Linked DNA regions of Homo sapiens. The protein of the gene in region 1 purifies or fractionates together with the protein of each later gene. This does not show direct contact. Each region holds a gene or a part of one and is shown on either strand. Other genes may lie near its edges.

What was found.
Region 2: the proteins of FBLN5 (region 1) and EMILIN3 purify together in Homo sapiens (affinity purification with mass spectrometry; one large-scale study listed by BioGRID and IntAct). This does not show direct contact.
Region 3: the proteins of FBLN5 (region 1) and TXNDC12 purify together in Homo sapiens (co-immunoprecipitation; one large-scale study listed by IntAct). This does not show direct contact.
Region 4: the proteins of FBLN5 (region 1) and RBPMS2 purify together in Homo sapiens (affinity purification with mass spectrometry; one large-scale study listed by BioGRID and IntAct). This does not show direct contact.

The regions. Positions count from the first base shown.
Region 1 is NC_000014.9:91,871,803-91,874,694, forward strand, and holds part of FBLN5 (fibulin-5 isoform 1 precursor), read right to left. Parts: intron 1,874-2,892; coding exon of another isoform or gene 1,695-1,873; intron 1-1,694. UniProt on the Homo sapiens protein: Essential for elastic fiber formation, is involved in the assembly of continuous elastin (ELN) polymer and promotes the interaction of microfibrils and ELN. Stabilizes and organizes elastic fibers in the skin, lung and vasculature.
Region 2 is NC_000020.11:41,364,019-41,368,287, forward strand, and holds the start of EMILIN3 (EMILIN-3 precursor), read right to left. Parts: upstream 2,801-4,269; 5' UTR 2,617-2,800; coding exon 2,450-2,616; intron 1,140-2,449; coding exon 1,017-1,139; intron 1-1,016.
Region 3 is NC_000001.11:52,045,192-52,048,691, forward strand, and holds part of TXNDC12 (thioredoxin domain-containing protein 12 precursor), read right to left. Parts: intron 1-3,500. UniProt on the Homo sapiens protein: Protein-disulfide reductase of the endoplasmic reticulum that promotes disulfide bond formation in client proteins through its thiol-disulfide oxidase activity.
Region 4 is NC_000015.10:64,769,090-64,772,589, forward strand, and holds part of RBPMS2 (RNA-binding protein with multiple splicing 2), read right to left. Parts: intron 1-3,500.

The DNA of each region.
Region 1 (2,892 bases):
ATAGAGATCGCACCACTATACTCCACCCTGGACAACGGCGAGACTCCAGCTAAAAAAAAAAAAAAAAATTCTCATAAAACCCTGAAAGGCCTTGCCACTCAAAGTGTGGTCCCTGGACCAGCAGCATGGGCATCACCAGGGAGCTTCTTATAAATGCAGAATCTCAGGGCTAGGATCTACTGAGCCAGAATCTGTGGCTTAACACAATCCCCAGGGCTTTGTGTGCACATTAAGTATTGAGAAATATTGATCTAAAAGCACAGGACCCAGGTGGGGGGGCCCTGGCTGTCCTTGTCTAAGTGCTGTATGAAAGGTATGACTCATTACTTCCCCGTTTTATAAGTAAGCAAACTGAGGTCCCATGAGGTTAAATAATTGCTTAGGGTTACCCAGCTAGTCTTGGGCAGAACCAAGGGCTTCCATTCAGGTATTTCTGACCCCAAGCCCCAGGCTTTTTTCACTGCACAGCAGGTATCAGAAGAGGCTGATGTGTGTTTCACTTCTTCCTAGCACCCACCTAATGAGAGATGCTCGCGGTCAGTGCAAGGGACAGATATTGGCACTGTTAGAGGAAACAGTGTGAAGAAGAAAAGGGATGGGCTGGACAATCACTTCCCATACACTGCAGAGCCCAGCCCTGTGCCCAGAAGCTGCAAGCAACAGTCTCTGCAAAATAAAGGAACCTAGCTGGTTTAAAGCTACACTAGATGTTTTATCTGTCTCCATAAAAGGAGGGCGCCCCATAAAGTTCTGAACATCCCCAAGAGCCACCACAAGTAAGACAAGGGTGGGGCTGGCAGACAGGTGCAGGCCAGGCGCTGGGACCTCCCCTATCCATGAGGCTATCGGCAGCCTGACAGCCACACAATTTCCTCTTGGCACTGGTTCCTCCTGTTCCCGTCAGCATCCACGTTATTGGCACCTCCTCACGCAGATTTCTTGGACTTCCTTGTCAGCCCTTACGAAACCTGAGCCCTGGGCCAGGGCTTCAGAGGGTAAAGCCACACAAGGAAATGCCTGCAGCCTTTACATATACAAATATCTCACCAGCTTTCACTGCGTGAACAAAGACCAAGAGTTGAGAACCCTGAGCTAGGGACAGCCCTCCAGAGGGAGATCTGCAGAGCCCAAGGTCTGGAAGGGAGAAGGGGGCAAGTGCAAACTTCCAAGTTGTTCCTTTGGGCTCTCCTGGTAAATGTCTCCTGAGTACGAAAGAATCCTCAACTATCCCATTTGAAATCCTAGACTCTCCCATTTGGAAGTAACTGCAGAAGCTGGTGAGTCCGGCCTCCACCTGGGTCCACCCTACCCACAAGCACCTGGAAGAGCTCAAGTACCTGCCACAAGAGCTGAGGACAGCCACCTCCACATTCGGCTTTTAGGGCAGAGCCAGGGCATTAATGAAATAAACCCCTGAGAGCCCGTGGGCATTAGTAGGCTTGGTGGTGCGAAAAGATGAGGAGGAGGAGGATGGTGGCGACAGTGATGACGGTGGTGGTTATGATGCCAGGCATCTGGCTACAACCTTTCCTACACCTCTTAATTAATCTTCACAACCCTATGCTCTAAGTAGGTTAGGGATACTACATAAGGCCACCAAACTACTGCATGGTACTAGACTTTATGGCTCCAAAAATCATGCTTCTAACCACTACACTCTCTGATAAGGTCTCTGTACCTCTCCATTTACTCACCATCCCATGGGTCTTGACTTGACTTGAGAATCGCCACTTTGTGTTGTGTTTGCTAGGTTGTTTTCCCCCTCTCCGCTAAGGTGTGTGTGGGTTCCTCCAGGGCAGAGACCACATCCTGTTTGTTTCTCAACGCTCAGTGCCTGACTTGAAGCCTCATATGCAGTGGTGCTGAATGCACGCTGGTAACGGAAGAATGCACACGAATGACTGAACGCCAGTGGACTTGACCACGCTGGGAGTCGGCTGCCAACAGCCCACCAGCTGTGTGTCTTCTTGGCCCTGATCCCAAACACACTCAGGTTTATTCTAATCAACTTGTGGGATGGCATGGTCTGACCTGTGGCAAGCAGCCACGCTGTAGCAGGCCAGCTTCCATGGGCCCTGTCACTTGATCCACGTGTGTCATGGAGTAAGTGCACTTTGGCACAGTCTGAACCCCATGACCTTGCTCCTTCTTCTGGCCCTAATTATGACCCCCAAGCCACCTGGCCAAAGCCAATCATCAGTCCTCTTTCTAGGGCTCAGTGAGAGACAGGCAGCCAATAAGGCTTATGAATGGGCTTGTGTGTGTGTGTACACGTACGCATGTGGGCATAAGTGTGTGCATGTGTGCATGCAAGTGTGTGTGTGTGGTTTGCCTGCGGGGTGAGATGAAGCTCCTCCCATGTGGTTATAATCAAATCAATGAATCTCAGGGTGTGAGAGCCTGGATGGCCATCCAGCCCCACCTCCCACACGATGCTCCAGTCCCCTGGGTAGCATTCCCAAGCTCTCCATGGCCCAGCAGCTCCCAGCCTCCTTGCAGCAGTAGCAGCAACAGTAGCAGTGGCCACAACAGTATCTATACAATCATAACTGCTATTTCTGGAATACTTTCTATTGTAACTGGATGTTAGACTTTTCTTGTGATCTCCATTTCATCTGAGACCCCAAAGCTGGAAGAGTAGGTAAAGCATACCTCCCCATTCTGAAGAAAAGTATAACAGCACAGATTTTTGGTGCCAGGCTGCTTAGGTTCAAATCCTGCCCTGGTGCTTATTAGTTGTGAGACTAGTCGGGCAGGTTGCTTAGCTCTGTGCCTCAGTGCTCTCATCTGTAAAATCTGGACGATAAAACCATCCTATATCATAGGATTCTTGTGAAGATTAAAGGGTTACTGTATAGAAAGCACTTAGAATAGTGTCTGGCACATACAGGC
Region 2 (4,269 bases), on another chromosome or scaffold:
GACAGGGGTGGGTAAGGGCAGGCCTTCCTGAAGCTCACAGTCATGTTAGGGAAGGATGCAGGTAGAAGTCCCACCCATCCTGGTAGCTTGGAGAGAAGCAGGAATTTTGCCCCATCCCTCCCAAGACCACTTGGACCCCCTCTAGCTCAGGCTGCCATGAGAAATTCCACTCAGGCTGCAGTAGCACCTGGGAGAATCAGACACAGCCCCAGCCCTCCCTGTGGGCAGGGAGGGGCACTGCCCTGGAGCTGGCGCTGGCAGCCCCCTCACTGCCCTGGGGGCCACTCTTGGCTCCTACCTGCTCCCCTTAGTTCTTTCCACTCCTCTCTAGCCTGCTCCGGGACCTCGGCTCTGGTCAGAGAGGCAGATGGACGGGTACCTCTGATTGTGAGCAGGGAAGGGAAGGTCCAGGGTACAGGCAGGCTCGCGAGGGTCCATGCCCTCACTGTTCAGCCACGTACCTGTTCACCCACTGACACACCGGAGACAACAGGTTTGTTTCCACACACACACGTGAACCTCTCCAGGTACAGAGCTGTGCATCCCATGTGCGTGCAGCCCTGCTGCTCCGGCTTCCTCTCCCTGCCCCATGGCCTGCCTCCTTGTGGTCACCACAGTCCTCCCTGGGCCTGCCAGGCCCCCCTGTGGCATCACCCGTTGCCTAAGGGGCCCTCTGCTCCCTCCTCTCCCCTCACCTTCTGCCTCTGTCACTTCCTCCTAGCCTTGTGCTGCCTCTGCCCCCAGAACCTTCCCCTTGTCCCTCTGTGGTTCCTGGGCTCCAACCCAAGCCTGCCCCTGTCTGTGCGGGTGATGCTCTGCTGCAAGCCCAAATCCCTGGGGTCCTCCTTGGCACCCTCTTTTCTGGGGCCGCCTTCTACTCTGGCCTGTATGGGGGCTCAGGTGGGCTCTCTGGAGTCCAAGAAGCCCCTTGTGGAGTTGGCAGCTGCTCTCAGCTGAAGGCAGGACTGGCGCTTGTGCCAGGGGATTCCAAGTGTGTAGGTGAGGAGTGCACTTACGTGACTGTCCCGGGGCACTTGGGCCCCCATCTACACTGCCGGTATTCAGCCTTTACGTAGCTCTCCGCTCCCTCCTGTAGGATGCAGGTCACATTCCTGTGCACCACATAGGCACAGAGGGCCCTACAGGAGAAAATGGCACCCCTGGAATATCTGGCTGAGCGAGGCCCACAGAGGCGCCTACCCTCCCACCTCCATCTGTGGGCCTCAGCAGGACTCCAAACTCCCATGTCTCTTCTGTCTGTTCTCTGTGTCCCTGGGAGCCAACGCCCTTGGTCTGGGGTCCAGCCCCGCTGCTGGTCTCTGATTCCAGCCTCCGTGATGGGTGGCCCCTGGGCTAAGCACTATTTGGAACCAGGAGCCTGATGTGGCTGCCCCTCCCTGCGTGGGGAAGAGGCCAGCCCGGATTCTCCCTCAAGTGCCCTGCCACACCCCCCCATCCTTCGCTGATTCCAAACTCCTTATCTTGGCATTTAAGGCTTCCGAGTCCCCACTCAGTGACTCCTTTGAGAGCACCATGTCTTGTCCTTCCTCCCTGCCTGGCTCCCGGGGAAATCCACCTCTCCTCGTAGTTTTGCAGCCCCTGCCTTTGGTCCTGTTCCCTTACTCTCAGAGCAGTTCTTGTACCACCTCCTCCAGGAGGCTCGCTGTGATGTACCCAGGCCCACTGAGTGTCGGTACTCTTCCTCCTACAACAGCTCTCAAATTCAGCTAGAATTCAAGTTCAGCCAGCACCCCAGGCAGAGCCTCCAGCCCACTTAACTGAGGCCAGTTCGCAAGCCACTGCCCACGAAACACCAGAAGCTGAGGCGGGGAAAGCAGGCTCCTTGATGAGCCACAAGGGCTGAGGAGGTGGCTGCCTGGCATAAGCCGACCGCTGTGGACGGCTGTGCCACAGCACAGGCCCGGAGCCAGGAGCCCGCTCTGGCTCTGCAGCCCGGCCACGCTGGGGCTCCCATGGGGTTGCTGGGGCCAGGCTGACTGCGAGAGGGCAGCGGCCGCCCGGATGCGCAGCTCTATCTCCTACCTGGCCGGGCCAGGGGAGAGAAGGGAGGCCCGGGGCGGGGGAGCCCCGCGTGCTCAGCGCGCGGACCGCCTTTCCTCCTCTCCCTCCACCTGGTCCGCTCGCCCGGAGTCTGCACACAGCGCAGCTGGAAAATGTTACTTCGCTGGAAAGGTTTCCGCTGGCACTGCCAGGATCCCAAGCCGCCGCGCCAGGCCCCCTCGGTTCCTTTTTCCTCGCCAGCCCCGCAACCTCCCGGAGCGTAGGGCGCTCGCCTGGGCAGGGGCTCGGCCCCGGGCGCCGCCCCCTCTGTGCAGCGGCCTCGGGGTGCCCGGGGCCTCGACGCCCCCCGCGGGTGCGGGCAGGTGGGAGCGGCGACGCGCGCGGGCCCATCCCTCCCTCTTCCCGCCCGCCGCCCGCCCGCGCTTACTTGTGCGGCCCCGGGCGCAGCCGCGGGCGCCATCCCGTCGTGTAGAGACTGTAGCGGGAGGCACCGGGCGGCGCAGGCCGCGCCAGGAGCGGGGTGCCCCTGGCCTGCGCCCCCGAGAGCAGCGCCGCGACGGCGCACAGCCAGACGAGCAGGCGGCGGCGGCCCATAGCGGCCCCCGCGCCTCTGCCCGGCCCCGCGCGGTGCCCCCCGCCGGGTGTCCGCCTGCAGCGCCGCGCCGCCCCCGCCGCTGGTCGGCCCGGGTCCCGCCCCGAGGGTCCCGGGGTCCCCTTCGGCCCCCGAGCTCGCTGGCCCGGCCGCCTGGCGCTTCGCGGCGGCTGCGTCCCGCGGAGTGGCCGGCGCTGCTAGCGGCTGGGGCCGCGGAGGGGAGGCGGGAGGCGGGCTCTTTGCGGATTAGCATAAACTTGGGGCCGCGCCGCTCGCCGCCGCCAGCCCCTCGCCCCAGCTCCGAGCGGACGGCCGAGGAGCCGCCTGCGAACAGGAGGTTCCAAAGGGAGCAGCCCCAGGTGGCAGGGGCGCAGGCCGCCGCGCCCTGGGAGGCCCCCCGAGCACACCAGCCACTCTGTCGCCTGCGGGCACGGGGCGAGACGCAGAGAAGCGGACCCCTGAGGCCAGCCTGGGCGTGGACTTTCCAGGAGTCGTCCACCCTCAGGATACGCTTGTCTTCAGAGTCCGTGTGAACCCGGGAACTGCTCTCCAGGGCTCTGGAGCCGAGATGGCCGTGACTGGGGGCACAGCAGCACCACCTCCCCCGCCACCTCTTTGGAATAGACCCCAGATCATCCCCGTTTGCTCGCTCTGCCTCCTGGCCCCATCATTGCCCGGGAACCTTAGTTTGATAACTCCGCTGACCTCTCCCCAGGCATCCCACCTCCCCCTTACCCCGCAACCTCTGCCACGTAGCCTGGTGGCCCGGTTGCACCTCTGGTTCTCTGGAGGCGCCTGTGTTGCCTCTCTGTCTTAGGTATGGGTTGCACCGAGCCCGAAAGGCCTATCACCGCCCCAGCCCAGCCAAAAGTGCTGTGCTTTTCGTGCAACTGAAGCTCTAAGCCGGCTGGTCAGAGAAAATCCTCAGGTCTTTCTCACAAGGCACTGCCGCGGTGAAGCCAGGCGTCGTCCACATTTTGCTTGTGAAGTTGACTCTTGGAACCCAAGAGTTGGGTTTTATCGTCGTCCTCATTCAGTATCACCTTGCTAACTCTCTAACCTGCACAGAGTCCTTCTGATTCTGTCATCAGAGCGGTACTTTCCTGGCCTTGTCTCATCCACACCGGTGGCTACAGCCGTCTGTGTCTTTGCCCCAGGAGCTGATAGGTGTACAGAACTCTGGGGCTTGCTTGGAGAGACCTCCCTCCAAATTGACCTTGAGATATGAATTAATGCCTTTTGGATAGGGTGATGGTTATCAAGGATACTGGAAGGGGCAGCTCCGAAACCCACATCTATTTCCTGCCCTTAGCTTTAGTGGCTTTTGGGTTCTGTGGGGCGGACATCTGACCCCAGCTAGGCCCATCCTGCTTTCCCCCAGGCTTTGGAATCAGAACACAGAAGCTGAAGGAATCCAGCTTCCAGGTGTAGGTTGTGTGAGTTTCTCAGGGCTGTGGTAACAGCCACAGACTCAGTGGCTTAACACACAGAAATGTATTCTTGCACATTTCTGGAGGCTAACTCCAAAATCCATGGGCCAGCAGGGCAATGCCCCCTCCAGTGGCTCTGGGGAGAAGCCTTCCTTGCCTCTTCCAGCCACTGGTGGTTCCTGGCAATCTCTGGCGTTCTTTGGTCAAGGATTCTTTGTAGCAGCA
Region 3 (3,500 bases), on another chromosome or scaffold:
TTGGAAAAAGCAAAATTATGGAGATAGTAACAGATCAGTGGTTAACAGGGATTCTGGGGGAGAGAGATGAATAAGTGGAGCTCAGGATATTTTTGTAACAGTGAAACTATTCTATATGAAACTGTAATGGTGGATACATACTGTTAATGGCCTCAATTGTGTCCCCCACCCCACTCCAAAGTTCATATCTTAAAGTCTTTAAAGAGGTAGCTGAGGTAAAATGAGGTCATTGCGGTGGGCCCTTATCCTTATGAGAAGAGGAGATTAGGACACAGACAAACTTAAAGGGAAGATCATGTGAAGACATAGAAGACAGCCATCCACAAGAAGAAACCAACCCTACCAAGACCTTCATATTGGACTTCTAGCCTCCAGAACTGTAAGAAAATAAACTTCTATTGTTTAAGCCGGTTAGTCTGTGTATTTGTTATGGCAGTCCTAGCAAACGAATACATATGTTATTATACATTTGTCAAAACACATAGAATGTACAACACCAAGAATGAACCCGAATGTAAACTAGGGACTTTGGTTAATAATAATGTATCAATATTGGTTCGTCAATTGTAACAAACTATCTTTCAAAAGTAAGAGCAAAATAGACATTTTTAGATAAGCTGAGTGATTTTTCCATCCTTCCCTCACAGCCCTCAGAAAAAACAATCCTGCTGACACTGTGATTTTGGACTCCTAGCCTCCAGAACTGTGAGACAATAAATTTCTGTTAAGACACAGTTTGGGCTGTGGATGGTGGCTCATGCCTGTAATCCCAGCACTCTGGGAGGCCGAGGTGAGAGGATCATTTGAGCCCAGGAGTTTGAGACTAGCCTGGGCAACATAGTGAGACCCCATCTCTATAAAAAATAGAAAAATTAGCCAGGTGTGGTGGTGCATGCCTATAGTCCTAGCTACTTGGGAGGCAGGGGCAGGAGGATCGATTGAGCCTGTAGTGAGCTGTGATTGCCCCACTGCACTCCAGCCTGGGTGACAGAGCAAGATTCTGTCTCGAAAAAAAAAAAGACACAGTTTGTGGTACTTTCTTACTGTAGCCTTAGCAAACTAATACAGGGGAGCAAGGCAAAAGCAAGGAGACTAATAAAGGGGCTACTACAATAATCCAGGCAAGAGATGATAGTGGACTGGACCAGCTGGGGTGGTAGAGGGGTAAGATACCAATAGGTTCTGGATATATTTCAAAGGCAAAGTTAGCAGGATTTTGCTATGGATATGGGATATGAGAGCAAAAAGAGAAGTCAAGGATCACTCTAAGGTTTTTGGCCTGGACAAGTAGAAGGATGGAGCTGCCATTTACAGTGAGGATGAAAGCATGATTAGAGCATGACCAAGACAGTCCAAGGAGAAAAATTAGATCGAATACATACAACTCTTTCAAAAAATTTTTGACTGGGTGTCGTGGCTCACGCCTGTAATCCCAGCACTTTTGGAGGCCAAGGCAGGCAGATCACTTGAGGTCAGGAGTTCGAGACCAGCCTGGTCTAACCTAACATGGTGAAACCCCATCTCTACTAAAAATACAAAAATTAGGCCAGGCGCGGTGGCTCACGCCTGTAATCCCAGCACTTTGGGAGGCCAAGGCAGGCGGATCACGAGGTCAAGAGATCAAGACCATCCTGGCCAACATGGTGAAACCCCATCTCTACTAAAAAAAAAAAAAATATATATATATATATATATATATATATTAGCCGGGTATGGTGGCACACACCTGTAATTCCAGCTACTCAGGAAGCTGAAGCATGAGAATTGCTTGAACTTGGGAGGCGAAGGTTGCAGTAAGCCAAGATCATGCCACTGCACTCCAGCCTGGGTAACAGAGTGAGACTCTGTCTCTAAAAGAAAAGAATTTTGCTGTACCAGGGACAACTGAAAGCTGATAGAAATGATACAATAAAGATAGGAAAAAGGGGTAATACAACATTAGAAGGGAGAGTCACTGGTAAAATATTGGTGAGTCGGTGAGAGGAGACGGGATTTAGCACTCAAGTAGAGGGATTAGCCTTTGCTAGGAATAATGATGGTTTATCAGGTAACAACAGGAAAGGGAGCATGTATGAACACTAGTGGGTAAATGCAGTAGTGAAAATTTTTGAAAGGCCTCTTCCGATTCCTTCTGTCTTCTGGTAAAGAGGGACTATAATTACTAACTGAGAGCAAGGACTATGGAAGAAGTATTGGAGATTTGAAAAGACAGGAAGAAGTATGAAATAGTCCCCTAGGAGAGAATCAGAGAAAATAAAAAGGATAGCTAAAGGACATATTTCAGGTAGGAAATGATCCCAGAGGAAGGCCTAGATACAAAGAATAGTGAGCAAATAAACCAGCAAACATGTAGATAAATATGTAAATATTGTCTGTATAGCAATTTATAATGCCCGATTTGTAGAGTTAAAAAAGAAAGAGAGAGAGAACTAAGCCAGGCACAATGTGCACCTGTAGTCCCAGCTACTCTGGAGGTTGAGTCAGGAGGATTGCTTGAGCCCCGGAGTTTGAGGCCAGTCTGGGCAACAGGATGAGACTCTATCTCTAAAAAATAAATAACTAAGTTTCAAAAAAAAATTAAAATTAGAACTAAATATGAGACAACTCCTTATAAGTGAAGAGTGGGTGATTGAAATTAAATGTTCTAAAGTCCCTCTTACCACTGGGGGTATAATAGTGTTAGATTTTGTTAAGTATGCAAGTAAAATTTCAAGAGTTACTACTAAAAGAAAAGAACTAGAATGCCAACTTCCAAACTAATAAAGGAGATAAAATAAGAACAAGCAAATATTCAACCCCCAAAGAAAGGGCAAAAAGAAAAAAAAGCACAGAAAAAAACAGTAGAAACTGGATAACAGAAACAAGAGCTGTTCTGTCAATAATCACAACAAATATAAGTGGACTAAACTTGCCAATTAAAGTGAAAAGACAAAAATTGTCAGACTTGGTTTAAGAAAAAAGTACCTCTACGATGCTTATAAAAGCATACCTAGCCAGTTGTGGTGGCTCACACCTATAATCCCAGCATTTTGGGAGGCCAAGGCAGGAGGATCACTTGAGGCTAGAAGTTCGAGGCCAGTCTGGGCAACATAGAGAAACCTCACCTCTACAAAAAAATTTAAAAATTAGCTGGATGCAGTGGCATGTGCCTATAGTCCCAGCTACTCAGGAGGCTGATGTCAGAGGATTGCTTGAGGCCAGGAGTTCGAGGATACAGTGAGCTATGATGGCACCACTGCACTCTAGCTCGGGCAACAGAGGGTGACCCTGTTTCTTTTCTTTAAAAAAAAAAAAAAAAAAGCATGCCTAAAACAGAAGGACTTACAGAAGTCCAATGCCAAACAAGATAGAGTCAAGGAAGCTAGATTAATATAAGGTTAAATAAAATTTCTCAGCCAGGCACAGTGGCTCATGCCTGTAATCCCATTACTTTGGGAGGCTGAGGCAGGCAGATCACTTGAGTTCAGGAGTTCAAGACCAGCCTGGCCAACCCCATCTCT
Region 4 (3,500 bases), on another chromosome or scaffold:
GACTTCGTCTCAAAAAAAAAAAAAAAAAAAAAAAAGAATTTTAAAAATATGCAAGATGTGTAAGGATATAGATTTTTTAAAAAAGAATTTAGGTCAGGTGCAGTGGCTCACATCTGCAATCCCAGCACTTTGGGAGGCCGAGGCCTCCCAACATGGAGAAACCCCATCTCTACTAAAAATACAGAATTAGCTGGGCGTGGTAGCACATGCCTATAATCCCCCTACTTGGGAGGCTGAGGCAGAAGAATTGCTTGAACCCAGGAGGTGGAGGTTGCGGTGAGCCGAGATCGCGCCATTGCACTCCAGCCTGGGCAACAAGAGCGAAACTCCGTCTCAAAAAAAAAAAAAAAAAGAATTTAAAAAATAAAATCCATCCTGGCTAACACGGTGAAACCCCATCTCTACTAAAAAATACAAAAAATTAGCCGGGCGTAGCAGCGGGCGCCTGTAGTCCCAGCTACTCTGGAGGCTGAGGCAGGAGAATGGCGTGAACCCAGGAGGCAGAGCTTGCAGTGAGCTGAGATCGCGCCACTGCACTTCAGCCTGGGCGACAGAGCGAGACTCCATCTCAAAAATAAATAAATAAATAAAAATAAAATAAAACTGGCTTGGTTTGTTTATTATCTTCGTGCAATGGCAACTCTAAATCATATCTGTGATAAAAGGCCCCTCCTGGCAGGGGCTGACAGCTCCCATCACCCATCTTGGGATGCCACCAGCCCAAAGGAAACTAGTCCGGAGTCAGCCTCTGGGCTTCTGGTTGGCATCACCCAAAACTCAGCCATTAGAAACTTTAATTGCAGATACCCGGCTGGGCGCGGTGGCTCACGCCTGTAATCCCAGCACTTTGGGAGGCCGAGGCAGGAGGATCAGGAGGTCAAGAGTTCGAGACCAGCCTGACCAACACAGTGAAACCCCGTCTCTGCTAAAAATATAAAAATTAGCTGGCCGTAGTGGTGCGCGCCTGTAATCCCAGCTACTTGGGAGGCTGAGGCAGGATAATCGCTTGAACCTGGGAGGCAGAGGTTGCAGTGAGCCAAGATCATACCACTGCATTCCAGCCTGGGTGACATGGCGAGACTCCGTCTCAAAAAAAAGAAAAAAAAAAGAAAATTGCAGATACCTTTCTCCCCCTGCCTTCCAGTCTCACCAAAAACCCTAATATAAAACACAATAGCAGTATACTGTGTGGTTAAGAGCAAACTCTGGGTTCAAATCCCAACCTCCCCACTTAATAGCTACATGAAAGTTATTTAACCTCTCTGTGCCTCACTTTCCTCATTTATGAAATGGTGATAATAATGTAAGTACTTCATAATGCTCTTACAAAGATTAAGAGTTAAAATGGTGCAGAACATATAACAATGCCTGGCATAAATACAACATACAGGTTCATTATTATTAGTACAGCCTCTCCCTTAGATTACTTAGGCAGAGGGGACACATCCACAATAACTCCCAGTGAGGAGGGGAACCTGACCTCCTACTGCTATATGCCTGGCAGGGCTTCTAGGTGAGTGCCCAGAAACAGAGAAGCCTCCATTCCCTCATATTCAAAAAAAGCCTGCAGACCAAGATGTCCCAGATGCTTTCAAATGCTATTGATGTTAAAGAAAAGGGAGGTGCCCAAATAGCACACTGGATCCAGGAATTACCTCGCACTCATCTAGAGTGCCTTATCCCCCACCTCCCACACCCCCCTCCCCGTTCCATCCACACAAGTCTAAGCACCTGTTCACCCACATCTCAGGGAGGGCTGACCTCAAGCCACCCAGTGGTCCCAGGGCTCTGGCTGCTTCCTGACACCCCTCTGAGGACACATGATGGGCTCTAGGATACCAGGCCTGCAAGCAGCAGCCCTGTCCCAGCCACACTGGGATGAGGTGGAAGGGCAGGGAAGGGCAAAGCCCCTCAGGTCAAACTGTAGCCCCCTTAGCTGCCATTAACCCCTGCCTTTCTATAGCTTACCATTAAGCTGGCAAAAACTTTTTTAACTCTTAAGAAACTTATATCCTCCCTCAACCCAATAGTATAAATACCACTCTCCCCCTTCCAGGGGTGCCCCCCAGTTAAAAATTACTTTAACAATCTCCAAACTCTTCAAGTTGTATACACTAAATATACACCTTTATATATGCCAATCATACCTCAAAAAAGTGGTTTTTAAAAATTACTATAACTTAGTATCACCTCGTACCGTTTAGTTGTCCCTCGATATCTGAGGCGGATTGGTTCCAGGGTTCCCCCTTGGATATCAACATCTCCAGATGTTCAAGTCTCTTATATAAAATTTGTATATAACCTATGCACAGGCCGGGCACGGTGGCTCACGTCTGTAATCTCAGCACTTTGGGAGGCCGAGCTGGATGGACCACTTGAGGTCAGGAGTTCAAGACCAGCCTGGCCAACATGGTGAAACCCCGTCTCTACTAAAAATACAAAAATTAGCCAGGCATGGTGGCGTGCACCTGCAATCCTGGAGGCTGAGGCAGGAGAATCACTTGAACCTGGGAGGAGGTTGCAGTGAGCCGAGATTGCGCCACTGCACCCCAATCTGGGCAACAGAGACTGTCTCAAAAACAAAACAAGGCTGGGCGCCGTGGCTCAGGCCTGTAATCCCAGCACTTTGGGAGACTGAGGTGGGCAGGTCACCTGAGGACAGGAGTTCAAGACCAGCCTGGCCAACATGGTGAAATCCTGTCTCTACTAAAAAACAAAAATTAGCCAGGTATGGTGGCGGGCACCTGTAATCCCAGCTACTCAGGAGGCTGAGGCAGGAGAATTGCTTGAACCTGGGAGGCAGAGGTTGCAGTGAGCTGAGATTGTGCCACTGCACTCCAGCCTGGGTGACAAGAGTGAAACTCCCCTTCAAACAAATAAAAAAATAACCTATGCACATTTTCTGGATACTTTAACTCATCTCTAGATTATTCACAATACCTAATACAATGTGAATGCTATGTAAATAGTTGTTATATTTATTTGTATTATTTTTTATTATTGTATTTTTTATCTACAACTGGATTCATGGATAGGGAACCCATAGAAATGGAAGGCCAACAGCAACTGTATTATGAAAGCAAGGTCTCCACTTTCAAAATAGAAATCACATTTACCCCTCTTCAGAGACATGGTAATTACCCAGTTATCCCTTGAGAATCACTAAGACAGGACATTTAGGTCTGAAGTTTGGCAGCACTGATACAGCCTGCCCCGGACAGGTTCATGTACTGTATTACCTCATGTCGTCCCCAGCTCCAGTCAAGACTTACCTGCAGGACAGCACAACCTCTAGATTGGGAGGGACATTCAGCTCCTCCCCTTAATTCCTTACTGCCCTCCTTAGCTTTCAAAGGGTATCAAAGCTTCGAACACATCTTCCCAAGTGGCAGAAAAATGCCAATTTTCCCGTAATACCACAGTCATTACTGCCCTAATTCCAAACTCTCATTATGGCTGCACTGCCTGATATTGCTGCAATATAGCAAACTCCAGGTAGT